Linked DNA regions of Homo sapiens: all the other regions are reported to be linked to region 7. Evidence: microRNA targets listed by miRTarBase, many of them from high-throughput screens and not tested one by one. Region 7 holds a microRNA gene; each other region holds the end of a gene's coding sequence.

Region 1 (4,066 bases), not on the chromosome of region 7:
CAGGTATAGCCAAAACCTAGTAGCATGGTTACAAGTAATCTCAAACCTTGTACCCAGGCCTGATCTCAGAGGAACCATCACAAACTTAGCCAGTGACTGAAGCTGATTTCTCTCTGAGGTCGTATTCAATACAGAACAACTGAGGTTATCAGAAAATGGAAGTTAGTGGTCGTATGTTTAAGTTGACATTTGTTAAAAGTCAGAGACATTTGAGGAAATTTTCCTGTCCTGATTAAGTAAAAATATAGAAAGGATATTAAATGTTACTGATTTGACTAACAAATTGAGCTGGAAGATTTGGTCTCTGACTCTTGTAGGGATTCCTTAGTCAATATCAAACTACAGCACTAACAGTCCTTTGCAAAGACAGACTGCCTGATTTTTTTCCTTAATGAGTCCAACTATGCCCATGCCCATTTTCATTAACATATCATCCATGTCACTGTGAAATCATGTGGCAGAATTAAATTCAGAACCATGATAGCCAATAATTCATTAGTAATTAATAGTATAACTCTGGCTCAAAACATCACCTCCCCCAACAAAACCAGTGACTCTAACCAGGATTGGCATATATTCGTTCATTCAACCAATATTTTATGAACTATTTCCATGTGCCAGGCACTGTGCTAGGCACTGAAGTTGCAGCAATGAGCACACAGTCTTGGCTTCTGTGAGGCTTTAAGATGTATTCAATCAAGAGCCATTTCCCATATTCCTGTGGCAGATATCACGCACCAATCACAGCAACCTCTCCTGAAGGTTCAATCCAGCAACCTTCTCCTGAAGCCCCTACGAGCCTGAGGATCTTTCTCAACTTGATACTCAAAAATATTACCAGTCAGAGGTGGAACACAAGATGAACCTTATTGGCCACTTCCAGAGTCTAACTAACTATATTAAAATCACCTGCTATTCCCACAGACGCCTATGCTTTGGTTCATGCTGTTTGTTTCTTTCATCTGCCTCTCCTCCCTTTATATGAACATCCAAATCAACTATTCAGAAGATACAGTTCAAATGCTCTACCTTGAATCCTCCCCAGTCAGAAAGAAATGTCCCTTCTGAATCTCTTTTTAAATGCTATTTAACATAGTTTACCTAATAAAGTACATGCCATGTCTCTCACGTAAACATCTTAAGGCTAAGAAATGTCTTATATGTCTTAGCCTCAAATTATTTACATCTTTGCACACACACACACGCACACACAAACATACTTGCTAGATACTGGTTCAACTATGAGAGAATTTGGGATTAAGAGAGAACATAGAAGCTCACTTGGGTAAAGCTCACTGTAGGGCTATGTTCAGTGGGAGTACATCATTTCTGCTGTTCTGGTTAACAAGTTGCATTTGCAAAGCAAATTACCCAAGATTTTGTTATACGAAAGAAGAAAAGTATGTGCAGAAATGAAACTAAAGTGGATTCTTGTGAGTCATGGTCTTCTAAAGGTTGTGAAGCCCCAAATATTGCACACAGCATTTGTGTGTATACATATATTTGCATTTTCCAGGGAAAGGATTCATAGCTTTCACCAGATTCTCAAAACAGCTGTAAGAACTAGAATATATGTGCAATAATTGTAACAACATACTGACAGATATTGATGTGTTTGTTCTCACACGTCAAAATGGCTTGCTGGCAAAGGGAAGAACCTTTCCCAGGTTTACATCTCTCTAAGGATGATCCTGGTAATCTCCAAACTGTTATTCCTATGATTCACTGCTCCCACTTAGCTTTTTTTTTTTTTTTTAAGCATCTAAACATGTGAATGATCGACAGCATCTATTAAACTTCCATGATAATTTCAAAACCTAACAGACTTCTCCTAGTAAACTTAGCAAATAGATTTTGATGTTAAATCTTGTATACTTTCAGGAAACATGTTCTCCAAAAAACCCAAATTAACATAAATTAACTAACTCAAAGGTATTTAAAATCATCAATAGTACTTTTTCTATCTAGGGAAATAAGGCACTAGGAAAAGAAAATGCATGTAAGACAAATAATATTAGTGAATTAGTTTATTTAAAACCATCAGTTTTTCCAATGTGAATGGACTGGTTCATATCACACCATATTTAGAGATACAAGGTGATTATAACTAACGTGTCTACAAGACATACTGGGTCAAACAATGTGATCAATCCAAAGGGTATCTTTTTAAAAAGAATTTAAGTACTCAGCTGCAAAGATAAGTTCACTAATGAGATTTTCTTTTTTTTTTTTTTTAAAAAAAAAAGGTTTTTAATGAGTCAAATTTATTACAAAAACTTAGTGTGTAATCAAAGCCAAATACATTCCTCAGGCATGCCAGCGGCAAGCAAAATAATGTTAATAGAATGTTATTAAAAAATAAAACTTTTTCTGAATGATATATATAAAACATCATGGCACATTATCATCATTTGACAACAGAAAACAGGAAGATATGTTTCAATACTGACTTTTTGTTGTTTCAATAAAGGTAAAAAAACAAAAATTTCAACAGAACACATAAATTAGAAATTCTAGAGGGTAAGCCATAAAGAGGTGTTCTCTTCCATGCAACTGCCAGCCGGGCATGGTGGCTCACTCCTGTAATCCCAGCATTTTGGGAGACTAAGGCAGGCAGATGGCATGAGCTCAGGAGTTCAAGACCAGCCTGGGCAAGGTGGCAAGATCCTGCCTGTACAAAAAATAAAAAATTAGCCAGGCGAGGAGTGCACACCTGTAGTTCCAGTTACTCAGAAGGCTCAGGTAGGAGGATCACTTGAGCCCAAGTCAAGGCTGAAGTGAGCCAAGATCATGCCACTGTACTCCAGCCTGGGCGCCAGAGCAAGACCCTGTCTCGGGAGAAAAAAAAAAAAAAGCATGCAATTCCCTACAAATAATGTATAATTTCAATGCATGAGAAAAAGCATCTTTACAATTCGAATATATCTTTCAGCCAGTAAAGGAACAACTCCGTAACTCCCCATCTGCTTTATCTACAAAGACTTAGTGATTACACAATAAAAACTCCTTAGTAAGAATTGTAAAATTTTTTTAAATAGCAACAATTCACTTGTTCTTTTCTATTTTATGGACTTATACATTTCAAATATGACCATGTTAACAACCAAGTATGTACAATATTTTTAAGGACAAAAATAACAATTATATACAGTTTGCAAAGATCAAATTCTAACCATGGACACCTTTCATCTAGTCCAATGACTGAAGCCTGTCCAACGCCAGTAACTCCCAGGGACTAAGGCCAAATGAAGCCTCAATGCTGTATTTACCTTTTTCCTTTCACATGCTTTTTCTTAAAGAAACATTTACAATTTACCTGCTTTGAAACTGTCAATAGCTATATTAATAATGTTTTGTGCCACAAATCAAAGTCCTTTCCTACTCAAAAGCTACTGTTAATTGAAGGCAATGTTACCATTGAGATCAAATTCAGATGTCTAGATCCCAGATACCTGGGTATGAAATATGCAAATCTGCCAAGAGAAATTAGATATTTTTCTTCTTTTCTTTTAATATAACCCACTATATAATAGTGAACTAAATATGTTTGTTTCATAGAAACAACTTACATTTGCCAATATAAGGCAAATGGTCTATGTACAGATACATCAGGACTGCCTAACTGACAGTGAGTGTTGCTAGCCAGGCTCCAAGCTAATGGAGCTAATACGGTGGAGCTCTCTGCTGAATGGACTTTCCCTTCAGGATACGTCGGATCTGGAAGAGAAACAAATAAAATTTGTGAGGTTTATTTCTTATGGCCAATGTGGTGTATTTCCTTCTGAGTTTCATTCCTTTCTTATACCATCTACACTACTCCTATTAACTTGTAAGTATACGAAGAAATACACACAATATTTCTCAAGATTTTGAGGTGACTTTTAAAAATACTAAACTCCTTTTAAACTTATTTCAGATCTCTTATAATAATCTTTGAGTTCAAGAAAGTAAAACATCTCCACTAAAAATTATCTGAAGTTGAAAATCTCCATAAACTTAACACCTATATTCTTTTCCTAATCTTTACTCTTGCTATTTGTGAGAACATTTAACATAAGACAGTAAT
Region 2 (4,066 bases), not on the chromosome of region 7:
CGCCACTTGCTGGCAGAGGTGACTTGAGCAAGTCACTTAATCTTTCTGTGCCTCCATTCCCTCCTCTTTAGAATGTGGATAATAATAGTACTGCCCTCAAAGGACTGAGGTGCAGGTTAAACCAGTTAGTCTATGGAAGGCAATCAGAACTGGGCCTGGCTCCTGGTGAGGCTATGTGAGTTGCTATCATTAATTCCCCACTTGGCTAGGGGATTTATGTGGGGAACAGCCAGGAACACCTGGTGTCGCCCCTTCCTACCTAGTTGGGAGTGGTTCTTTCGGAACACTGACTTAGCATTCAGCCCCTCTCCCCCGCTTCCTCTGTAACGCAGCATTCTTTCTAACCATGGACCCCAAGAATACTGGCCATATTTGCTTGAGCCTGGAACAGGTACTTGGAGAAGGGTGGGAAGGAATCTGCAGGATTGCACCTGCCTGCCCCTCAACCCCACCCCCACCCAGCTCTGATGTCCCCGGGCCAGCATCCTGCCCCCGTCTCTTCCCACCCTGGGATCTGCTTCCTGTCTCCACAGTGGCTGCAGATGACCATGTGGGGATAGAGGCGCTGTAGGAGCCTGGTCATCTCTACCAGCAGCAGCAGCAGCGAGGTTCTAGCCCAGGAGGGTGGGGTGCTTCTTGTAGCCCTCAGCTCTCCGGTCTCTGCTGATGAAATGGGCTCCAGGTGGCAGTGCCCGGGTCCCAGGTGCCGTGTTTACTGCAGCAGTGGGACCTCCGTGCCCACTCCCCCAGCTCAGAGGCTTTCTCTTTTTTCCCCAACCCGGCTTCTGATGGCTGGCTTTCCCCCACCATCGCTCTCTCAGAGTATATTTTACTAAAGAGTAGTTGATGCTTCCCCAGGGTCCCCCTGGCTGGGGAGGCCAAGAATAGGGAAGGGACTTGTAGCCCGTTTCTTACCCTCCATGCTTGCTGTCCTGCTCACACCTACCTGCTGACCACCCATCCTGGCACAGCCTCTGTTTTCCTCCCCATCTGTGGATACTATTCTAATAAATAGCACATGCCATTGGCTTCCATGTCTCTGTGTTTTTATGCCAAGAAAAGACTGGCAAGGGTGGAAGTCACTTACCCAGGACCAAAGGATTGGGTAGCTCTCAGCCAAGGGTGATAGGGAGCATATAGAAATGTGCAGTTGTCACAATAACTAGAGGCCATAGTTGGCGTTTATGGGCAGTGCCAGATGCTAAGCACACAAGTCCCTCCCTGTGAAGAACTGTGTGGTGTGCCCTATGGTGGAGCGCTTCTACGGGGGCTGAGCCAGGGCTCCAGGACTCTCATCTGCTGCTTCAAACTGGGGTCCCCAAAGGTGGCACTGCAGGAGCCTCGAAGGTTAAAAATCTGACACCTGCAGCCAGCAGGTCACATAAATGAACGAACTGCCGGGCGCGGTGGCTCACGCCTGTAATCCCAGCACTCTGGGAGGCCAACGCAGGTGGATCACCTGAGGTCAGGAGTTTGAGACCACCCTGGCCAACATGGCAAAACTCCGTCTCTGCTAAAAATACAAAACTTAGCTGGCCGTAGTGGCACGCGCCTATAATCCCAGCTACTTGGGAGGCTGAGGCAGGAGAACTGCTTGAACCTGGGGGGTGGAGGTTGCAGTGAGACAAGATCATACCACTTCACTCCAGCCTGGGTGACAGAGCAAGACTCTGTCTCAAAAACAATTTAAATAAATAAATGAACAAATCCTCCTCGTGTGGGACTGGGAAGGCTGAGGACTGTGGCAATAGGTGAACTCGTTCCTGCCTTAAAGGTGTTCAGATTCAAATCATTATTATTATTGTTAGAAATTTGTTGCCTGTCCACTTACTAAAACCTCCCTTAACTATCCTCCACCTTATCCAGAGAAGCTTCTTCTTTTAGAAAATCAAGCAAAGCAACTAAGTCAAGACATGTTAAAAAAAAAAAAAGTATGAAAAGAAAGCTGTAAGGAAATACAAGGGGAGGGATTGTTAGATATGAGTTCTAAATTTCTTTTCAAAGAATTAATATGTCAGTATGTTCAATTCTTTGCCTTCTATTTTTAAACTTCACTTCCTCGTAAAGCAACCTTTTCAATTACCTATTCCACCCTGACTCATTCCGATCACCTGCTCCACCCTAATTTATTCCAATCACCTGCTACCTGCTCTGCCCTGACTCCCACCAAAGCACTCACCCTGTCAGTCTCTTTAAATTAGTCAATCAGAATTAGTTTAGCCTGTGCGGTCTAACCCTAGCCAATAGGGGAACGACACAGCAGCAGGGGCCACGTGCATCAGGGATAAGAACCCCTTCCCCTCCCTTGTCCAAATGTGTGCTCACCATTGTTCCATCTATAAGGGCGCACGCTTCTATATAGAAGTAACTTGCCTTGCTGAGAATTAAAAAGAAAATTAAAAAAAAAAAAGAAATTTGTTGCTTGTCAAGCTACTGTCCTTGCAGGAGGCATGGAAGAAACACTTATTTCTGGGTCCACCTGTTTTTGACCTCGGGGTCTCTGTCCCAGGTGCCCACACCCCAACTCCAGCCCCAGCCCCCTGCAGTAGTGAGAACACCCAGGCCACTCACAGCAGCCCCTAAACTGTACTTCTCCTCCTGTCCTTCCAGAGCCCTCCACAGCCTCCCCTTCTGGTTTCTGGCAGGGACACTGGAGCCCAAGCACATGCGCTTCTCAGCCTCTCAGGTAGAGACAGCACCCCCAACTTCCCCTAGATTAGAGATCTGTCATCCCCAATGAAGCTAAACCCTTCCTGTCTCTGTGTACCTGTGCAGCTTCCTGGGGTCGCTAGCTTCCTTCCACGTGCACTAAACCCAGCCCTTGTGTGCTTAGTGAGGCAGGTGGGATTCTGATCTTCCTTAATCTGGTGACTGATTGTCTGCACCAGCCCTGGCCCCTGCCTTCTTTGTGACTTCAAAGACTAAAGCTAGTCTGCCTGGATATAAAGCCGCCTTCCCTCCATTATCACCACCCCACGCCGCCTTCAGAGGAATCGTTTCCTGTCCTGTCAGCCCTCCCTGCTTCCTCTCCGTCTCCAGTCCTGCCTGAAAGAATAGGTCACACTCTCTTTGGAGCCTCTTTGAAAGACTGTTCTCCCACTTGTCGTCCTCCCTCTCTCTCTAAGAGATGGCAGCCACCACCTGCTCTCCACAGAGCTTCTCTGAGTGATGAGCAAAAGTCCCCAGAGAGAGCAGGGAGAGGTCAGTGAGAGCCTCAAGCTAACAGGTCCATGCTGGGCATGGTGGCACATGCCTGTAATCCCAGCTACTCGGGAGGCTGAGGAGTTTGAGACCAGCCTGGGCAACACGGGGACTCCATCTTTTAAAAACAAAAACCTAGCAGGTCCTTTGAGACTCTGAGAGGTCCCGGGCAGTCCGGATTGGTTCTGGGAACCCTAGGAAGATGCTGACCCCACCTCTTGTTCCATGGCCTAGGGTGAAATGCTGCCAACTTCAAGCCAGGATGGAAAGGAAGCAGAAAACTCTCAAATCAGGACTATCCCTTCCGGTTTGTAACAAAGCTGGTTACTCACGAACACTCTGTAAACATAAAATGAAGCAAACTTCACATAAGTAGAGAGTTTATTTGGGCTAAACTTAAGGATTGTAACCCTGGAGAATAGATTCAAATTATTCTGAATATACATCCCGATTAGCAGCAGTTACAAGTGGATTTTTAGGCTGGGTACAGTGGCTCACACCTATAACCCCAGCACTTTGTGAGGCTGAGGTGGGCAGATCACTTGAGGCCAGAAATTCAAGACCAGCCTGGCCAACATGGTGAAACCCCATCTCTACTAAAAATACAAAAAATAGCCAGGCGTGGTGGCACACGGCTGTAGTCACAGCTACTCGGGAGGCTGAGGCATAAGAATCGCTTGAACCCGGGAGGCGGAGGTTGCAGTGAGCTGAGATTGTGCCACTGCACTCCAGCCTGGGTGACAGAGTGAGACTATCTCAAAAAAAGAAAAGAAAAAGTTAGCCAGGACTGGTGGCGCACACATGTGGTCCCAGCTGTGTGGGGAGCTGAAGTGGGAGGATCACTTGAGTCCAGGAGGTCGAGGCT
Region 3 (4,066 bases), not on the chromosome of region 7:
TTCATATCAACACCACTATCTGCTTAGTATCCCAGACAGCACTCCTCAGGAGGTTGAAATTGTCTGCTTATGTTGCCTGTCTCCCCCACCCCAAACTGTAAATTCCTTGAGATCAGGGACTCTGACTTATTCATTGCACCTAGCACCATAGCTGAGTGAAGAAGATCATCTTAAATTCAGATGTGAATTTTGACTTGAAGGCAAGGGTAGGACGGAATGGAGGAATGGAGTTGGAAGTTGGAAGACAGCATGGGTGTTTCTTTTTTTTCTTTTTTTCTTTTTGTGGAGACAGGGTCTTACTTTATCACCCAGGCTGAAGTGCAGTGGCACTTTTCTTGGCTCACTGCAACCACGACCTGGGCTCCAGTGATCCTCCTACCTCAGCCTCCCAAGTAGCTGGGACCACAGGCTCATGCCACCATGCCCGGCTAATATTTTAATTTTTGTAGAAATGGGGTCTCTCTGTGTTGCTGAGGCTGGTCTCGAACTCCTGGCCTCAAACCATCCTCCCACCTTGGCCACCCAAAGTGCTGGGATTACAGGCATGAGTCTCCACACCTGGTCAGGAAATAGACATTTTCAAGCAGAGGCAGGGATGGTGATGGCATAATCTGATTTACTAAGGGTATTGAATAGATTTGGGCAGGTGGCAGAGCAGGCCAGGGGAAGGAAACCATTGATAATGTAGATAATGTGACCCACGCAAGATATGATGCTGGCCTGGACTAAGATGTTGGTAATGGGGATGGAGAGAACCAGACAGACTTGAAAGAGAGTTAAGAAGTAGACTTCATACCAGGCACAGTGGCTCATGCCTGTAATCCCAGCATTTTGGGAGGCTGAGGTGGGAGGATCACTTGCGCCCAGGAGTTTGAGACCAGCCTAAGCAACATAGGGAGGCCTTATCGCTACAAAAAATGGAAAAATTTGCTATGAGTGGTGGCAAGTTTCTGTGGTCCCAGCTACTCAAGAGGCTGAGGTGGGAGGATCACTTGAACCCAGGAGGTCAAGGTTGCAGTGAGCTATGATGGTGCCACTGCACTCCAGCCTGGGTGGCAGAGTGAGACCGTCTCAAAAAAAAAAAAAAAGCCTGACATGATGTCTTGTGCCTGTAATCCTAGCATTACTTTGGGCAGCTGAGGCAGGAGGATCATTTGAGCCCAGGAGTTCAATACCAGCCTGGGTGACATAGCAAGACCCCATCTCATGAAGCAAATTTAAAAATTATTTTTTGGGCTGGGCGAGGTGGCTCACTCCTGTATTCCCAGCATTTTGGGAGGCCGAGGTGAGCAGATCATGAGGTCAGGAGATGGAGACCATCCTGGCTAACACGGCGAAACCCCGTCTCTACTAAAAATACAAAAAAATTAGCTGGGTGTGGTGGCAGGCGCCTGTAGTCCCAGCTACTTGGGAGGCTGAGGCAGGAGAATGACATGAACCCAGGAGGCGGAGCTTGCAGTGAGCCGAGATTGCCCCACTGCACTCCAGCCTGGGTGACAGAGCAAGACTCCATCTCAAAAAAAAAAAAAAAAAAAATTATTTTTGGCCGGGTGCAGTGGCTCACGCCTGTAATCCCAGCACTTTGGGAGGCCGAGGTGGGTGAATCACCTGAGGTCAGGGGTTCGAGACCAGCCTGACCAACATGGTGAAACCCTGTCTCTACTAAAAAAACTTTACAAAATTAGCTGGGCATGGTGGTGCACACCTGTAATCTCAGGTATTTGGGAGGCTGAGGCAGGAGAATTGCTTGAACCCGGGAGATGGAGTTTGCAGTGAGTGGAGACTGAGCCACTGCACTCCAGCCTGGGCAACAAGAGCAAAACTCCATCTCAATAAATAAATAAATAAATAAATAAATAAATAAATGTGTGTGTGTATATATATATATATTTTTTTTTTGAGATGGAGTCTCGCTCTGTTGCCCAGGCTGGAGTGCAGTGGCACGGTCTCGGCTTGCTGCAACCTCTGCCTCCTGGGTTCAAGTGATTCTTCTGCCTCAGCCTCCCAAGTAGCTGAGACTACAGGCGCGTGCCACTACGCCTGGCTATTTTTTTTTTTTTTTTGAGACGGAGTCTCGCTCTGTTGCCCAGGCTGGAGTACAGTGGTATGATCTCAGCTCATTGCAAGCTCCGCCTCCTGGGTTCACACCATTCTTCTGCCTCAGCCTCCGGAGTAGCTGGGACTACAGGTGCCCGCCACCATGCCTGGCTAATTTTTTGTATTTTTTTTTAGTAGAAACGGGGTTTCACCATGTTAGCCAGGATGGTCTCGATCTCCTGACCTCGTGATCCGCCCGCCTTGGCCTCCCAAAGTGCTGGGATTACAGGCATGAGCCACCGTGCCTGGCCACCGGGCTTCTTCTTCTTCTTCTTCTTCTTCTTCTTCTTCTTCTTATTATTATTATTTGAGACAGAGTTTCGCTCTGTTGCCCAGGCTGGAGTGCAGTGGTGCGATCTCGGCTCACTACAACCTCCGCCTCCCAGGTTCAAGCGATTCTCCTGCCTCAGCCTCCCAAGTGGCTGGGATTACAGGCACCCGCCATCACACCCAGCTAATTTTTTTATTTTTAGTAGAGACAGGGTTTCACCATGTTGGCCAGGCTCTTCTTGAACTCCTGACCTCAAGTGATCCACCCGCCTTGGCCTCCCAAAGTGCTGGGATTACAGGTGTGAGCCACCACGCCCGGCCATTTTTTTGTAGTTTTAGTAGAGACAAGGTTTCACCATGTTAGCCAGGATGGTCTTGATCTCCTGACCTCATGATCCACCTGCCTCGGCCTCTCAAAGTGCTGGGATTACAGGCGTGAGCCACCGCGCCCAGCCTATTAAAATTTTTTAAATAACAAAAGAAGTAGACTTCACAGAATTTGGGGTCAGGTGAAGAAAAGAAGGGTGCATAAGCTGAGGTGAATTCTAACTTGGGCACTAGGTGTCTTAGTGGTGCCTTCTTCTGGGGCAAGGAATCCAGAGGAAGAGCATGATTGCAGAGGGAGGTGAGGAGCTCTGTTTGGGACAGGTTGAGTTTGAGTGGCCTGTGAGGCACCCAGCAGGTGGCTGGGCATTCCAGGCTGCAGGTGAGGGACAAAAGCTGAAAAGGAATGGACAGAGGTAGAAAACCTAGAAGGGTATATTGATGCCAAGAGAGTGACAGCCAGAAAAGAAATGACTCGAGACAAAGGGAGAACACCGCCGAGGCTCCTCCCCTCAGGTACCGCACACACACTTCCACAGAAACAAATGCACTGGAGAGTTTTCTCTTGACAGCATTTTATTTGGTTCAAATGTGAAACTCAGACCCTGGCTCACCCACTTCTCATCGTGGCTGGAGTAGATTTGTCCTGAGGGGGGATCATTGGCTTCTTATCGGGACATGAAAAGGGAAGCACATAGGTCACATCAAGTGTCAGGGCAGGGAGAGGCCCAGCGACTGCTGGCCGGGTAGGGCTTGGCCATAAGCCAGGAAAGGGATGCCTGGTACCACCTTTTAGACACATGCAGAGGGAGAGGAGACAATTCAGGAGTGGTCTTAGGGTTTGGGCTTTGAGCAGGCCTAGGGCAGAGTCAAGGCTCCGGACCAAGGGGTTCAGTAACTGTGGGCAGAAGACTTGTCCAGCTCACTGCGCTGCTCCTTCTGGGACTCTGTCACCACCTGCTGGGGACAGGGCATATGATGGGCACAAGCCATTCAGCGCCACCCTCCATCCTACTCCTTTGGATCATAGAGCCCCACTCCCTGGGGTAACCAGCAGAGGCTCCTGGTTATCTATCCACGTTCTCTGTCTCCTTCTCTGTCTCTCCCCAAGAATTACCCACCCTAAGTAAGATTAGCGACAGCCAGGCTGGGGCTCAGAAATAATATGGGAAATGGTGGGGTCCTGGCATTAGGGGACCTGCCTCACCTCCCCATTCCGGGTCTCAATGGTCTTGATCAGAACCGTCTTCCGGCTGTGGCTGTCCTGGGGAGGCTCCACCTCAGGCACTGAAGAAAGCAGGATAAAGGGTTCAAGGGGGAAGGCGTGGGAATCTCTCCTCTTAGGCTCCCACTGCTATCCCTGAGGGCAGGGGAG
Region 4 (4,066 bases), not on the chromosome of region 7:
AGATTCCGTCTCAAAAAAAAAAAGAAAAAAAAAAAGCGTATGTAAATAAAAGCACTGGATCATACCAATGACCTTCAAGCTGGGTTCCTTGGAGCCTCCTGGAGGCCTGCAGTAGAATATTCAGAGCTAAGGAGAGTGTGCAAACAAGGCTCTGCCCCCTCTCCTCTCTTCAGTGATTTATTGTATGTGGGTCCTGATGTCTTTGTTTGGGGAAACAGGTGGTAGGGCACCAGAAAGAACCCTGGCCGTGTGTGTTCTGCCTATAGCCCATTCGTCTAAACTGGGGCCCGGGAGAGTAGGGGCCTCAGCCTCCCGAATGTTCCCAAGTGTCATCTACTGTTGTCTTTTTGCCAGGTGAATCACAAGCCTTTGAGAACAGCCTGAGCCTTCAGCCCTCACAGATGCCCAGCCTCATAGCTGAAGTTGCCTGAATGATCCTCCTGTTGCATGTAACCCACTGGCCTCCCTGAGCATGTCCATTGACAGTGAGGTCCCACCCCTCATCTCTCCTTGCCAAATAGTTTGTGCCTTGTCTTGAAGGGGGTTGCTCCCCTTGCCAACCTCACACTGCTATGATTGCCAACTCCAGCGGTCCCATGTCAGCCTTCTGATGATCCCACTCCACCCCACCTCAACTTATTTAACTTCCTAATTAAATCAGACTGTTTGAGCCTGTTGTCTAGAATATTTTCCTGACCAAGACTGAGGGATGGGCTGGAGGTTTTCAACTTTGCTACCCAAATAAATTGCTGTAAGTAAGTACTAATAAAACAGAAGCAACTGGAAATTAATGCTTGGCCCGGCACAGTGGCTCATGCCTGTAATCCCAGCACTTTGGGAGGCCAAGGCAGGCAGATCATCTGAGGTCAGGAGTTCAAGACCAGCCTGGCCAACATGACGAAACCTTGTCTCTACCAAAAATACAAAAATTAGCCAGGCAGGGTGAAACATGCCAAGTAGTAGTCCCAGCTACTTGGGAGGCTGAGGCAGGAGAATTACTTGAACCTGGGAAGCAGAGGTTGCAGTGAGCCAAGATCGCACCACTGCACTCTAGCCTAGGTGACAGAGTGAGACTGTTTCAAAAAAAAAGAGAAAAAAAATGAATGCTAGACTCAGGTATGGTGACTCTTGCCTATAGTCCTAGCTACTTGGGAGGCTAAGGTGGGAGGATCACTTGAGCTCAGGAGTCTAAGGCTGTAGTGAGCCATGATCACACCACTGCATTCCAGCCTGGGTGACAAAGCAAGATCCTGGCTCTATTAGAAAGAAAATGAATGCTAGAATGTAGCTTCTTCCCTTGCATACAATAGGCTTTCTTGCATACAATAGGCTTTCTAGAATGGGAGAAAAGCAAGTTACTTATATACTGTCAAGAGTTTTAGAGTTAATTTTTCCCCCCAACAGTGTATTATAGTCAGAAAAGCATGCTAAAATAGAAGGAATGTTGGGAATAATACTAGTTCCTAGAATTCCTGAAAACATGGCAAAAGGAATTATTGTTTTCAGGGTAGCTTTGAGACTTGCATTGTGAACTTAAAAGTATGAGGTAGTAGATGGTACAGATTGTTTTAGAATGGGACCATAAGGTAGCAATCCCGCCTAGTTATCCTTTTTTTTTTTTAAAGACAAGGTCTTGGGCTTGGGCCGGGCACGGTGGCTCATGCTTGTAGTCCCAGAACTTTTTGGGAGGCTGAGACGGGTGGATCACTTGAGGTCAGGAGTTTGAGACCAGTCCTGGCCAACGTGGTGAAACCCCATCTCTACTAAAATACAAAAATTAGCCCGGCGTGATGGTGGGTGCCTGTAATCCCAGCTACTTGGGAAGCTGAGGCAGAATTCCTTGAACCCGGGAGGCAGAGGTTGTAGCGAGCCAAGATCGCGCCAATGTGCTCCAACCTGGGCAACATAGCAAGACTCCATCTCAAGAAAAAAGAAAAAAAAAGACAAGGTCTTGCTCTGTCACCCAGGCTGGGGTGCAGGGGTAGGGTCAGGGCTCATTGCAGCCTCTACCTCCCAGGCTCAGGCAATCCTCCCATCCAATCCCCACCCCCCTACCCCCAACAACCACCACCCCCCTCTACCCCAGCAGCTGGGACTACAGGCATGCACCACCATGCCCAGCTTTTTTTTTTGTTAGATGGTTCACTGCTGCCCAGGCTGGTGTGGAACTCCTGGGCTCAAGCCATCCTCCTGCCTCGGCCCCCCAGAGTGCTGGGATTACAAGTGGGAGCCACCATACCAGGGCTTCACTAGTTATCTTGGTGTCATAGGTTGACTAAGCCCACAGGATCACAGGAAATGGCCATGGGTACACATAACCCAAAGGAATCCTGGGCTGGGTGGCCAAGGCCAGTTCAACCATTTATGGTTCAGTACATCTGGGTGGGATGAAAAACTTGCATTTATTTCTGCAAGTTCCCAGAGGATGTGGATGCTGGTCTGGAAACCAGTTACACGTGATTTGTCATTCTTCTCAGCTTCCATTTTCCATCCCTGGATCCTGCATCTAAGCCTATGCCTTCCCCAGTTAAGACTCATTGGTGGGCCTGGTGCACTGGCTCACCTGGCTTATGCCTACAGTCCCAGCTGCTTGGGAGAATGAGATGGATTGTTTGAGCCCAGGACATCAAGGCTGTAGTGAGCTGTCAGAGACTACAGTAAAGACTGACTGGTGCTCAGAGCAGTTTGGGTACCAGAAACAATGATGTGAGGGTCTATAAAGCAGTCAGTGTCCTTACCAGTACCTCCCTGAGATACCAAATCGGCAGACACCCAAGTCCCTCATATAAAATGTAGTACTTGCATATAACCTGTGTACTTCAAATCATCTCTACGTTACTTGTAATACCTAATCTAATGCAAATATTATGTAAATAATTTATACTATTATTGTTTAGGGAATAATGAGAAGTCTATACATGTCCAGTACAACTCTTTTCCCAATATCCAGTTGGTTGAATCCGTAGGACAGGGACTCAATATTAAGTGTCAATTTAAGGAGAGCAGTGCAACTGAACTCAGGCCCCATGCCTCCATCAGCCAGCCGTGTTTCCCTAAATAAGCACACATCTCGCAGCTTTTTTCAATTCCCATTTATTTTTGGCTCTTGGGGCGATGTCATCTTTTCAATATGAAAAAAAGCAGCAAGTTCAACATAAAATAGAAATCTCAAATGTAGGATAGAACAAAACCAAGTGTGTGAGGGGGGAAGCAACAGCAAAAGGAAGAAATGAGATGTTGCAAAAAAGATGGAGGAGGGTTCCCCTCTCCTCTGGGGACTGACTCAAACACTGATGTGGCAGTATACACCACTCCAGAGTCAGGGGTGTTCATTCTTTTTTGGGAGTAAGAAAAGGTGGGGATTAAGAAGACGTTTCTGGAGGCTTAGGGACCAAGGCTGGTCTCTTTCCCCCCTCCCAACCCCCTTGATCCCTTTCTCTGATCAGGGGAAAGGAGCTGAGTGAGGGAGGTAGAGTTGGAAAGGGAAGGATTCCACTTGACAGAGTGGGACAGACTCCTCCAGAGTAGAGCTTGGAGGGAGATTGAAAGTGGAGATAATACTGCTGACACCTCCCTTGAAGCTGAGATGGGAAATGGACATACTTAGAAATTTAGTGACTTTAATAGCCTGGATTTCCCTCTCCAAAACTTTTAGAATGGAAAATCCCATCCCCTTCCTTATATAGTGACTTCTACCCACTACCTTCTACCATTTTCTACTTTGGGCTTAGGATGATGGCCATTATCTACATGTGTTTTCAGCACCTGGTTGGTTCTAAATGGGATCTGGAGACCCAGCTTCTTGGAGATTTTTAAGAGGAAGTATTAACTGGACAAATGGAATGGGCACCAGAAAGAAATACAGGGTCACCCAGAATGGCAGAAACCTAGGTTTCCCAGAGTGGAAAGAGAGAGGAGACATTCAACAAACAAGTATTTATTGAGCGCCTACTATGTGCCAGGCACTGTTCTAGACCCCCCCCAGAAGAAAAAACAAAAAACAAGATAGAGGCAGCAAACACAAATTCTGAGGGAGAGGAAAGGGGCAGTTGAGTAAGACGGCTAA
Region 5 (4,062 bases), not on the chromosome of region 7:
TTTATTTTCATCTCCTGCTTCCTGCCAGGGCCTCAAGATCCCTGAGTGAGGGCCACCCCACGGCCCAGCATGAGAAAATGCTCTGTGACACCTGGTGTATCGAGGTGAGACTCGGGGCTGCCAAGCTCAGGTGAGGGCTGGAGGTGCAGGCCCAACCCCTCCTTCCCTCTCCCCAGGCTGCAGCTCGGATCCGAGAGGGCATGGCCGCCCTGCAGTCTGACCCCTGGCAGCAAGAGCTCTACCGCAACTTCAAAAGCATCTCCAAGGCCTTGGTGGAGCGGGGTGGTGTGGTCACCAGCAACCCACTTGGCTTCTGAATACTCCCGGCCAGGGCCTGTCCCAGTTATGTGCCTTCCCTCAAGCCAAAGCCGAAGCCCCTTTCCTTAAGGCCCTGGTTTGTCCCGAAGGGGCCTAGTGTTCCCAGCACTGTGCCTGCTCTCAAGAGCACTTACTGCCTCGCAAATAATAAAAATTTCTAGCCAGTCATGCTTTGCTCCTGTGTGACGGTTCTTTCCCCCTGCTGCCTGCCTCCCTCCCAAAGAAAGGAGCCAGAGGCGTGGGGAGTTTGCCTCTATTGCTTTATTTGGTGTTTTATACAAGTGACTAAAATAAATAGAGTAACAAAGGCAGCTACATGGCCCAAATCTCCCAGCTTCCTCAGGCTGCTGTCTAGGATGCCTAACCCCGGGGTACCGCTGACCACCCCCAACCCTGCAAAGGGCAGGGCTGTGGGTAACTGGAGGAGGAGGTCACATTCTGGGGTTAGAAGGGGCCCAATGGATGGGAATTCTTCATATAAAAGAGGAAATGCCTATTAAAAAAGTCCCAAAAATGTAAGAAACTCTATTTTAACCCCCAAAAAGGCTTATAAAAAAACAAAGCTAAAAATAATCAAAGGTCCCTTGTCTACCCCTGAGGGAAGGGGGAGGAACCAGGCACTGCTGGTGAGAGTCACAGTGGCCACAATCTCCTGTATGGCAGCAGCTGGTAGGCTGAGCCCAGGCACTGTAAGAGCAAGCACATGACGGCCAGGACACCCAGTCACACACCAGGAGCGCCCGGCCCAGCCTGGCCCCACAGTGGGCTACATAACATCCACAAAGAACTCGCTGGGATTGCCCATGGCCATGTGGAAGCTTTGGCGGCTGGCTGTCAGTTCTGGGGGCACAGAGCCCAGGTCTCTGACTGGAGGGGCCCCCGGAGGCTGCACTGCTGGAGGGACTGGAGGTGGAGGTGGGGGCATCATGACCACCATCATGGGGTTGTAGGGGAGGGCCATGCCAGGGGGCGGTCCATAGGGATGGAGCCCTGGGTGGGCTCGGAGATTAGGGGCACCCCCAGTTGAGCCTCTGGATGGAGGAGGGCCCCCATCGCTAGTCCCACTTGCTTCCCCACCCCGCCGAAGGCTGCCCCCTCGGCTGGAGGGCTCAGACTCACTGCCACTGCCGGACTTGGACTCGGGGGCCCGCTCCTCGGGCCTCCCCGTGCGCCCTGCCCCCCCATCACTCCGTGTCGACCCACTGCTCCGGCTGCCTGTGGAGGGAGGGGAGGGGCAACTGAGTCCTCACCCAGGCTCCTCCCTGGCTCCCCTCTCATCCACCCTCAGATCCTGGCCGTACAGGTATGTGGGGATGACTTACCCTCACTATGCTGGCTGCTGGCACTGCCCCCACCATAGGTGTAAGATGAAAGCTCATGGTAGGGTGGAGGCTGCGGGCTGTAGGGGTGTGGGGCAGGGTATTGGTAGGAGAAAGTGGGCAGCAGGGGCCAGGGGGTGGCCCCAGGCAGAGGAGCCAGGGTATCCTGGTCTGAAGCCCCACTGGAGCCATCGTTGTCATTGAGAGACAGGTTGACTAGGTCTGGAAAGCAAGGGAAGAGAGGAAGAAATCACTGCTTCAAGAGGCTAGGGCCCCAAGACACCGAATGGAGAGGAACTGGGAACAGTTCTCCCAGACCCACCCACGATGGGGCTCAAAACAGGGGTTCACAAGGGTCTCTGACAAGAAACTCCCATCTACTTCTGCCATGAGGGCAGGGGCACAGCCACTAGCCCACGTCTTTGCGGGACTCAGGTAAGAGGTGCACCTTCCCCCGGTGGACACAGTCCTGCACCTGGCACATGGCTTGTCCAGCAGCACATGGGTGGACGTCAGCCCCCATCCTCGGCCAGTGCAGGACCTAGTGCGGGACACACACTGCTCGACCATCCATGGTGGCCCTGGCTGCGGTTTCTGGGCTAGGTCTAGGGTTGGAGAGGCAGAACAAGGTAGGCAAAGCCACACTCCCAGAGTTGGGGCAGGGGGACTTACAGCTCTCACAGCCACCACTGAGGTCTCCGAAGACGTAATAGCACTGCTCAGAGAAGGTGATCTTGTTGACGGTGTGTCGGATCAGGCCTGCTTTGAGCAGCCCGCTGGCATACTTGCGGGCCTCCCGCCGCTCAGGAAAGCCCTCCACGTGATGGTAGAGCCAGTCAACCACATCCGAGCCTGGGAGCACCCACAGTGGAAAAAGGCCTCAGGTTCTTCTTCCAACTCCTGCTCTCGCCTCTGCCTGTGCCATTCCTGGCTTTGGTCACCACCTCCTCCCCTTCTCCAGCCACCTGCCCAGGACCCAGCCATACCCAGAAAGGCATTAGGGATGGTGATCTTGAGCCACATGCGGTCCCGGACTTCCAGTCCAGACTCTGGAGCTGCCATGGCCTTGGTCACCGATGCCATGTCCGTATGGACGGAGAGACCCCGGCCTTCACAGCCTGGCAGAGGAGACAACGGGTAACCAGAGTCAGGGATCGCTCCCACAAGGGCAATGGATCAGACCACTGCGGGACAGCCTTCTGCTGGGAGGGTGGGATGAGGTGGGCTGGCGGCTCACCATCAGGCAAAGACGATCCAGATGTAATGGTGCTCATGGAGGAGGAACCTGGATAGGCTGGGAAGGTGCCAGTCAGAGCCGCGGAATGGGACACCCAGGCAGCAGGGTCAATTGGCTGGATGGGCTCATCTGGGACAAAGATGGCACCAAAATGACCCATTCTCAGTCCCCAAAAGCCAGCCCAGTCCCTCCCTGACTCAGCCTCCTGTTCCACCTCTGCCTGGACCCTCCTCCCACCCATTCCCCATGACCACAGGCCCGGCCCCAGCCTCCTGGGCAGCCCCCACCCCCAACTTCAGGCCCCTCCCTGAGTGTCACTCACTTCGGGGGAGAGTGAAATAGGCCTGAGGAGAGGGATCCCAGCACTTGGCCACAGTCAGCACAATGGGGCTATGGGGAAGAGAAGTCCAGTCAAGGGCGCAGGGGAAGAGGAGGCCTCAGGAGGGCGGGGGTCTGAAGCAAGGATGGATTAAGAGACACAAAGAGGGGGAGAAGCAAGCACATCGCGGCTGGGCTAGAGAAGGTGAGGGTGGAAGGCACCACAATGTGGATGACTCATCAACATGGAAAACTCTTAAAAACATACTGCCAAGTGAGACAAGAGAGTACACGCTGTACAGTTCCATTCACAGAAAGTCCAAAAACAGGTAAAACGAAACTGCAGTGTTCAAGGATACGTGCAAGGGTGGTAACTATCCAGTGAGGCAAAGCTTTTCTTTGTTATGGTGATGGCCAAAGAAGTCAGGAGAGTGACTACCCCTGGGGCAGTGAGGCATTTGGGAGCAGGAAGGGACATCTGAGGAGGAAGTTCTAGGGTATCAGCAATCTCCTATTTGATGATCTAGATGGCAGTGACATGGATATTTACTCTAGTATTATTTGCTATGTCATGCATTTGTTTCATGTACTTTGAACGTTATGTCTTAGCACTTTTTTTTTTTTTTGAGACGGAGTCTTGCTCTGTCGCCCAGGCTGGAGTGCAGTGGCGTGATCTCGTTTCACTGCAACCTCCACCCCCCAGGGTTCAAGTGATTCTCCTGTCTCAGCCACCTCACTAGCTGGGACTACAGGCATGTGCCACCATGCCCACTTAATTTTTCTATTTTTAGTAGAGACACGGTTTCACCACATTGGTCAGGCTGGTCTCGAACTCCTCACCTCAGGTGATCCACCCATCTGGGCCTCCCA
Region 6 (4,066 bases), not on the chromosome of region 7:
TCTTATCCCAAAGCAGAATGTAAAGTTGGTCATTATCCTTTTCAGTAGGGATTCTGGCCAAGACTCCAGCAAGCATATTGAGCTGATAAAAGGGTACCAGAACAAGTACCCCAAAGCAGAAATGACCCTGATCCCAATGAAGGGAGAGTTTTCCAGAGGTCTTGGTCTTGAAATGGCTTCTGCCCAGTTTGACAATGACACTTTGCTGCTATTTTGTGATGTTGACTTGATCTTCAGAGAAGATTTTCTCCAACGATGTAGAGACAATACAATTCAGGGACAACAGGTGTACTATCCCATCATCTTTAGCCAGTATGACCCAAAGGTAACAAACGGGGGAAATCCTCCCACTGATGATTACTTCATATTCTCAAAAAAGACTGGATTTTGGAGAGACTATGGATATGGCATCACCTGTATTTACAAAAGTGATCTTCTAGGTGCAGGTGGATTTGATACCTCAATACAAGGCTGGGGACTAGAAGATGTAGATCTCTACAATAAAGTCATTCTATCTGGCTTAAGGCCATTCAGAAGCCAAGAAGTAGGAGTGGTGCATATTTTCCATCCAGTTCATTGTGATCCTAACTTGGACCCTAAGCAGTATAAGATGTGCTTAGGATCCAAGGCAAGTACTTTCGCCTCAACCATGCAACTGGCTGAACTCTGGCTTGAAAAACATTTAGGTGTCAGGTACAATCGAACTCTCTCCTGACAGTCCAGGCAACACATTTTGCCTTTTTTAAGGGGAGTTTACCTCATTGTTGGTTGTTGTTATTTTTATTGTATTATTGTTATTTTATTATTATTATTGTTATAATTTTATTTTGTTGTCCTGGTCTTAAACTACTCTTGGTTGTCTTCCTAAGGGTGTTTGTTGACCTCAAGCAAGAAGAGTCTGCAGTTCACTGATGTTTCAGATTTCTACTGAAGTCAATATGTTATTACTTTTATATAACTTTATTTGAGATTGAGTTAAATCATAGCAATCAAATGACTTTTGAAACGCATTCATCACAAGAGACAGCTTAGAAGAATGTTCTCTTGGGGCTTAAAGATGCAATATCGACTTTTATTTGGTTTCTCAAATTCAATGTGATACAAATATTTACTGGTGAAAGGTACCACAAAAGTGCTTTATGCTTCCTATGGGGAAGGGACTCTGTAACATAAACTTGAGTTTTGTAATTTATACAAGGACTTAAATATATAAACAATAATTTTCTTCATCTTTAGAATTTTTAAAGTAAATGAATACCTATGATTGTATGTTTATTTTTTAAAAAAAGTTTTAAAAATTGAGGAGTTTTGTTCCACAAGCAACCGGTACTGGCTACCCTGGTCTTATGACAATTATGAGCTCCTCACAACTGTCTGCTATAAATGCGAATGAACTTTATTTTCTCAAGGAAATATGATTTAATTAAATATTCATGTACATTTTAGAAGCTTTATGAAACAATGTCCTTCATTTGCTGGCAAGAAGATAAAATATGACAGAACCTGTTTATTTAAAATAAAACACAGGTATAGCAGTATTCTTTTTCAAAAACACTGACAAGGTTTTGTTGTTTCCTTTTATTCACACTTGATATGTTTCTGTTCATATTCACCAAAACATGCTTGCTGAGCAGCTTGAAAAGTTAACAAGGGATTATGGTATGCTGTTTGTTTTATTATACTGGAAAACCTAGCCTTCATAAGTGATTAAACTGAGCAATTTCTTTACTCAATAATTTACCATCTGGGAGAAACATCCTTCCTCAATCTCTTCAGCTTTGGGATCAAGCTGACCCAAGAACAGTTCAAAAATTGCCTTTAATATGGGTTGGTAGGTATCTCAAAAGTCACTGGAGAAATTATTAATATGACATCAATTTTATAATTATTAAAAATACGTCAGGAAATATCTCATTTAGTTTTACATATCATTCTTTCTTTGACCTGGATCAGTGGTGTCCAGTTTCTAGAAAAGCATAATTGGATTAAAGAAGTGTAAGAGAAAATGAACATCCATCCAATGGAGTGTCATTAAGGCATATTATAAAATCTTATTTTGTAAATAGGTAATACATTTGCATGGTTCCAAAATCAAACAAAATTTTTAAATGCCTAAAGCTGTTGGCCTCACTCCCCATCCACCCATATCTGTCACCTGACTACACATGACCATTGTTTGGGCTGTGTGAGTGTTTTGTGCATGTCTTTCTAGAGTTTCTGAAGCACACATTTTACTTTTTTAACCCTCTATACACAAAATGCAGCATATTATACATATTGTTGTGCACTTTGATGTTCTGTTTCTACTTAATGGAAAAATAATTTGCATCAAAATTGATTTGAAAGTGATTGTTGTAAATTGTTGCCATTATTTTTAACTGAATGCCATGAGGCCACATATCATTTGCCTTGGTGATGTATTCCTTACATGTTGACAGCCTCTTTTACTGAAGACATTTTGGGATCCTTAACAAATATCATTGCTTAATATTAGGACAAACAGGATGGCAGTATCCTTGACTATAACTTGTAATCCTAATACTGTCAAATTCATTAGAAAATAATTAATGGCATCTTTAGATGTTAAAATGCTCATCTTGACAGGGCAAACAATTCAAAATTGATCTCTGCTCTAATATTGTCTCTGGCTTTCACAAACCCTCACTCTAATAACTTACTTTCCCATATTACAAGACCTCGCTGTCTTGCAGGTTTTATTTTCCTGAACAGTAAATATATTAGCATTCAGCAAACATAGTCATTTGGGAAGATCTATTACCAAATAATAAGTATTAAGTATTTTGTTAATGAAGAAAGGAAATCAGGGACTGATCTTTAACTCAGACAAATGAAATACGAAGGAGCTTCACAGAGGTAATAAATGTAAAGGCCTAGTTTAAAACATTCCAAGACTTAGAGAGTTATGAAGCAGCTGCCAGGGGATGAAGTGGCATTCTGTATTACATGATGAAAACATGCTGATGAACCAAGGGAATGCAGAGATCTCATTTGAACTTAATCACACATGTATACACTATACTGCTAGTATATGTGCATTTTAAATCTATTATATAATTTTGCATTCAGCCTTCATATAATCTTCTTCAGGCAATGCAGTATTACCTGACTGAAAATATGGGGAGAATGATATAGTAAAATTGAGTGTTTTTCTATCCGTGTAGTATCAATTACCTAAAGCCTTTAAGTTTGAAGGGCAACACACTATGAATGCAACCAAAAAAGCACAATATATGCATGTGAAGTAGTCCATACATTGTAGTGTTACCTTATTTGGATGGCTGTAGATGTTCTGTTTCAATGTCACCCCAAGAATAATTTCATCAGCATTCAATGTCATATTACTGATCATCTGCTGTCCACTCAGCACCACACTATGCATTTTATTTTTAAGTGTAATCCTCAGAACAGCTCTCAGAATATCGGTATTACTTTCTTCATTAAACAGATATGGAAACTGAAGCCACCATGGTTAAGTAACTTGTCCCGGGTTCACACAGTTGGCATGCTGTAGAGGTAAGATTTAAGCAAAAGCCTGTCTGAATGAAGCACCTGTTTTTTCACTCTACCCCATGGTTTCTCAGTTGCTGGAGGGATGTAGAAAACAACGGAGGGGGGAAGGGCCTCCTGACATCATGCACATGTGAGATCCACTAGTCAGCTTGCTCCTGCTGAATACTCTTTCTGGACCGAGCTAAATTTGCAGATATTTGCTCAGTTAAAGCCTCTTCAGGATTTAATCTCAAGCGTCTACCATTTTGCTAGATCCTTCTGTGCACCACTGTGTCAGGGAAGGTTAGGGTTTTTCTGTCTACCTGCTCAAACATCACTGAACTTCAGCAAGGAAAAAAACTTTCCAGAATTTCTGATGCCAACAATATCCCTTCTACATCATCTCAGCCCCTGAGTGTAGAAACTGTTCACACTGATGAACATCACCAAATAATTGCTTGACTGTTTCTGTCACTTTACTCATACAGACTTGGTATAAGCAATGTTGTCAGTGCTGAAATAGTTCTGAATTTAAGAGTTGAGCCCATTATGGCTA
Region 7 (4,066 bases):
TAGAAAGCAATTTTAAACTGATCAAGCTTTCTGAAGGACAAGTTTAGATGATCCTAAACAGGTAGGATTAGGCTGAGGGGATTAGGTTTGCTCCTCTGAGGTAGTATGAATTCTAAAGGAATCAGGCAGGACGATTTTGCAGCCCTGGACCATAGCTGCTTTGTGGATTACGCAAGATGTGGATGCAGGAGATCAGCGCAATTGGATGAATACTGGAAGGAAAAAGCAAGGCCGCCATGATAACGTGTAATGCTTTAAATTCATTTCTGCTTCCAACGACTGCTTTTAATTGGCACAAGAGGAATATTCCCAATCCTTAAATTTTGTAATTCGAGCAGCCCCTATTTTCCAGTGTGCTTTACCCACCCACTCCGAAATTGGATAAAATTAAATATAAACCAAAGTAATCGATGAATGTGAAAGACCCGACTTGCAGAGTTCTAAAATTCGAGGACAGATAAAATCCGCCCTGAGGCAGGGGGTGAGAAGGCAGCTCTCTGAGGATATTGCACCTGGCCGCTTTATTTCATGAATTTTATGATACATCTACATCCCGTGTAAAAAAAATAACTTAATGAACACATGTCTTTTAGGTCATTGTCAATGCATGGCCCATTGTTATACCTGGATCAAAATCGGTGTTGCTGTCTCTATTGTCCAACCTGAATTATTTTGTCTGTTACTAATTTTAACACCCTTTATGTTTGTGAATTTATAGACAAACTCAAGCAAATGCATAGAAATTTCTTTTGAGAAATAGCCAGCCAGGGTGGCTACGAATTGGTTGATTTTCCGTCTCTCTCTCTCTCTCTCTCCCTTGCCATTTTGATTCATTACTTAGGGAATTTAAATTTGTATTGTTTACATTTAATACTTTCAACATCTAAGAACGATGAAATATGCTAAGAAATTTAGATTTTTGAATATATCAATACTGACTCATCCAACCTTCGATTTCTAAGGCGAATTTTCACTGCATAAGATTTAGTAAACCGCCCTGCCTCTTTCCGTCGCGTGAGCTATGAGGATGTGGCTGAGGTCGGTTTTTCCGCAGTGCGGGTTTCAGGCCTCCTGGCCCTCCAGTGCCTCCCGCCGGCTGGGATGCGCCGAGCAGGCTCCTGCGCAGCAGAGCGGTCTGCAGAGCTCAGCCCTCTGTACCCGTCTACTAAGGCTGCCGGGCTGCAAGGCCTGGCCGAAGGTGGCAAGCTGCATGGGCTCCTGCCCTGTTTCACCTGGTGGGTCCCCGACCCACCCCTTCCTAGTTAAGCCTCGAGGCCCACACTTGAGTCCATTGCACGTCCCTTTGGTGACCAAGTAAGCACTAAAATCCGCGGCTGAGGACCTTATGTTTCTGTTTTAAGGAAGATGATTTAAGAAAGAAAAGGATAATAATAAAGCCTTCATTCTCCTCAATTTCCTTCTTGCAATCCTGCGATTTAGGTTTCAGCCTAAATAAAGTGGAAATGGTTTCCCCATACACTTACAATGTATGTATGTGTGCATTCCTACGTGAAGACCAAAAAGTGTCAGGCAAGGGTAGCAACCAGCTTGAGGGAACGATTTCAGTAAAATATTGTTTTGCTGTATGTGACCTTTTTCTCTTTTTAAATGTTATTTTTCAAATTACCTAATATCCTACTCTTCTTTTGAGTAGGGACGGGACGGTCCTATTGCTTTTCCAGTTTGATTACGGAGAGAGAAAAGGGCCACGGTCAGCACCGCGGACAGCGCCAGGCAGGGAGGGCGCGGCTACTTTGGTGCATCCTCTTAGCTCCTCTCCTTTGTTCCCAACCCCTGCAGGCCAAGGCAGAACAAAGACATCAAGGCTCGCTTTTTCGGCCTGGGTTTTTCTTTGGCTCCAAAGTCGTGGTGCGGAACTGCTACCTCAACATAGTCCACCTCACTGGCTTCCAAACAAATTAATTTACCGAGTCCTTCTAAAGTTTCTGACCTGGTCCTTTCACCTTATCCCACTCCTTTGACCGATTTGGACATTGCGACAATGCCAAAACAAGAGAGTTATCTTGGCGTCTTAAAGCCAGGCATGAACGCCTCGAGATTGGGAAGAAAAAGGGAGAAGTCAAGGGGAAATGCGGGCGGCAAGTGTTCTTCAGATCTTTCCAAAGTTTGGACGTTTCATTTGCTGTTTCTTGCGCAGTGTGGTCAGGACGCTATTTAATGTTACACCTCTCTCTGCTGTTTTGTTTTCCCAGCTTGGCCCAGGACTGCAGACAATCACACTACCTGTTCTTGAAAGAACTAGTGCTTTCTAAATGATTTAACTCTCTGGAATATTTGCACAGGCGGGAACTACTGCTCTCCAGACAGCTGTCAATGAAGCTTCCCTAAAATTCTCCTCGGAGATTTGCCTGCGGATTTCCGCGGCTGTAATGGAAAAGTAGGAGCCTTTCCCTTTCGAACACTAGGTTGCTTCCAGAATCAGTCCTGGGTGGGGGTGGGGGGCATTTATGCGGCAAGAGATGGGTTCCTTTTACTACCCCCTAAATTCCCTGCAATTGCTTTTTCCCCTTTCTGACCCTGAGATGCTTTGGTGTCCTTCAAGTGCAGCCGTAGGCTCCGCTCTTGGCATTCACCGCGTGCCTTAATTGTATGACATTAAATCAAGGTCCGCTGTGAACACGGAGAGCAGAGCCTCTAATCTTGATCCGGAAAGTATAAGACCCACTGCGATTACCACTCTTCTCTCCCTGCCCATCCCCCTCTCTCCGCTCTGAGTCTCTACCCCTAGAGTCATAACTCATAAGCCCAGCTCCTGTCTCTGCTCATCTCTGACACATCTGCCAGAGCCGCTGTTAATTAGTCTGTTCCGTGGAAGTGTAGACGGTGCGTGTGCCTGCGTATACATATGCATATATCTCCATGCCATTTACAGCACACGCCTAAAAACATACATAAGCCTATAAATCTAGTTTTCAAATGACGGCGTGGATCCAAGTTAATTACCCCTCTGGTACAGATCTAATTTTGTAATCGTGTTATTTTACTGAATGCAATTAACCCAGTTGGTTCGCCCTGAATCCTTTCTAAGGCACTTGTAAGGAATGGCAGGTTTTTAAGGACCACGCTATTGCATGTTCTCCGTCATAACCATTGCCAATCATTTTCTGCTGTCAGGGATGAAATCTAGCATATAAAAGAGAAAACCATGCGTGTGTGCCTGTAAGATAAACACACAGATATGCCTGGGCTCTGTGTCCTTTGATAACGTTACCGCGGGTTTGGTTGGGAGATTTTGGGAAAAGAGAGTCCAAGGGCGGGCTGGGTCATCTTTCTTTGTAATGCGGAAAAATTAACTCATCCGCACCTGCCTAGTCCCGAGAGAGCTGGGCGGCCCATCTGGTCTGGCTACAAGTTTGCTGCGGAGAGAAAAGCCTGCTCACTAAAGCTTCCCCACTGCCCAGGAGCGCGGACCTCGGGTCTGGGCCCGGAAGAGGGATTAGGCTCAGGGCAGCGCAGCCGACTCGCACTCCTCAGCCAGTGGCCACAGTCTGGGGCTGGAAGCGCCTGGGCCGGGCGGAGGGAGGGCAAGCAGGAGAGAGAAAAGGGTGAGGGAAGTTGACCTCTACGGGCGGAGCCCTCTGCGCAGCGGGCAGGAGGCAGCGGGCGCGACGGCTCTTTTCACGGCGTCCCCTACGGCGTGGTCGACCCGAGGGAAAGGCCCGCTCCCGCTCCAGAGTCCGAGGAAAGGAGAGAGAGCTGAGAGCTGGTCTTGCGCAGAGACCCCAGAATGCGCCCCTGAAAAACAGAATCAAAGCGCAGTGTTAGGGAGGCGGGAGAGAGGAGGGGGAGGGTGGGGAGAGGGACACGAGGCGGGAGGGAGCATGCGAGGGATACAAGGTGACAAGAGGACAGGACCCCAGTCGGCCGGTCGCGACCTCCGTCCCCAGGCTTCAGGGGGACGCGGAGGGGACCCTGAGCCCACGGAGCGCGGGGCCCGCAGCCCGGGGGGAGGGGGTGGCGCGATGACTGTAAGCGCAGGTCTGGGCTGCGGAAGTCCAGAGGAGGGTGCATGCGCTGCGGATACTGCCGCGTCCAGAGAAACGAT

The links. Region 7 holds the annotated microRNA hsa-miR-124-3p (UAAGGCACGCGGUGAAUGCCAA, at 2,584-2,605, opposite strand). A microRNA usually pairs through its seed, bases 2 to 8, with sites in the 3' UTR of a target mRNA and lowers its output. Matches are read on the target gene's strand: a 7mer-m8 pairs with bases 2 to 8, a 7mer-A1 pairs with bases 2 to 7 and ends in A, and an 8mer does both.
Region 1: miRTarBase lists NFKBIZ as a target of hsa-miR-124-3p. Seed matches in the 3' UTR shown: 7mer-A1 at 3,581-3,587 and 7mer-A1 at 2,606-2,612.
Region 2: the mRNA of CAPN11 is a reported target of hsa-miR-124-3p. The part of its 3' UTR that is shown has no 7-base or 8-base seed match.
Region 3: miRTarBase lists PRPH as a target of hsa-miR-124-3p. The part of its 3' UTR that is shown has no 7-base or 8-base seed match.
Region 4: the mRNA of FLOT1 is a reported target of hsa-miR-124-3p. Seed matches in the 3' UTR shown: 7mer-m8 at 525-531.
Region 5: the mRNA of ACADVL is a reported target of hsa-miR-124-3p. Seed matches in the 3' UTR shown: 7mer-m8 at 348-354.
Region 6: miRTarBase lists CHSY3 as a target of hsa-miR-124-3p. The part of its 3' UTR that is shown has no 7-base or 8-base seed match.

What each region holds. Positions count from the first base shown.
Region 1 is chr3:101,858,969-101,863,034 of GRCh38, reverse strand. NFKBIZ (NFKB inhibitor zeta) reads right to left here. Exons shown (of 12, transcript NM_031419.4): 12 at 2,013-3,717. The coding sequence ends at 3,664. Among named protein-coding and RNA genes, the nearest start is that of NFKBIZ, 11 kb to the right of the region's middle.
Region 2 is chr6:44,183,373-44,187,438 of GRCh38, forward strand. CAPN11 (calpain 11) reads left to right here. Exons shown (of 23, transcript NM_007058.4): 22 at 333-391; 23 at 534-1,029. The coding sequence ends at 560. It overlaps LOC105375072 (a long non-coding RNA gene), which reads left to right and starts at 2,611. Exons shown (of 3, transcript XR_926835.2): 1 at 2,611-2,686; 2 at 3,436-3,508.
Region 3 is chr12:49,297,870-49,301,935 of GRCh38, reverse strand. It overlaps PRPH (peripherin), which reads right to left. Exons shown (of 9, transcript NM_006262.4): 8 at 3,899-3,978; 9 at 3,250-3,648. The coding sequence ends at 3,583. All of the region lies in intron 4 of TROAP-AS1 (TROAP and PRPH antisense RNA 1), which reads left to right. Among named protein-coding and RNA genes, the nearest start is that of PRPH, 4.8 kb to the right of the region's middle.
Region 4 is chr6:30,724,434-30,728,499 of GRCh38, reverse strand. FLOT1 (flotillin 1) reads left to right here. Exons shown (of 13, transcript NM_005803.4): 13 at 355-791. The coding sequence ends at 384. TUBB (tubulin beta class I) reads right to left here. Exons shown (of 4, transcript NM_178014.4): 4 at 3,078-4,066. Among named protein-coding and RNA genes, the nearest start is that of TUBB, 6.1 kb to the right of the region's middle.
Region 5 is chr17:7,224,781-7,228,842 of GRCh38, forward strand. ACADVL (acyl-CoA dehydrogenase very long chain) reads left to right here. Exons shown (of 20, transcript NM_000018.4): 19 at 29-104; 20 at 177-486. The coding sequence ends at 317. It overlaps DVL2 (dishevelled segment polarity protein 2), which reads right to left. Exons shown (of 15, transcript NM_004422.3): 10 at 3,197-3,264; 11 at 2,875-3,003; 12 at 2,624-2,755; 13 at 2,310-2,489; 14 at 1,641-1,859; 15 at 562-1,533. The coding sequence ends at 1,085. Among named protein-coding and RNA genes, the nearest start is that of MIR324, 3.4 kb to the left of the region's middle. RefSeq lists an enhancer at 176-675.
Region 6 is chr5:130,185,077-130,189,142 of GRCh38, forward strand. CHSY3 (chondroitin sulfate synthase 3) reads left to right here. Exons shown (of 3, transcript NM_175856.5): 3 at 1-1,558. The coding sequence ends at 715. Among named protein-coding and RNA genes, the nearest start is that of CHSY3-AS1, 280 kb to the left of the region's middle.
Region 7 is chr8:64,377,749-64,381,814 of GRCh38, reverse strand. MIR124-2 (microRNA 124-2) reads right to left here and starts at 2,666; the gene lies at 2,558-2,666. It overlaps MIR124-2HG (MIR124-2 host gene), which reads right to left. Exons shown (of 3, transcript NR_109792.1): 2 at 3,326-3,756; 3 at 1-212.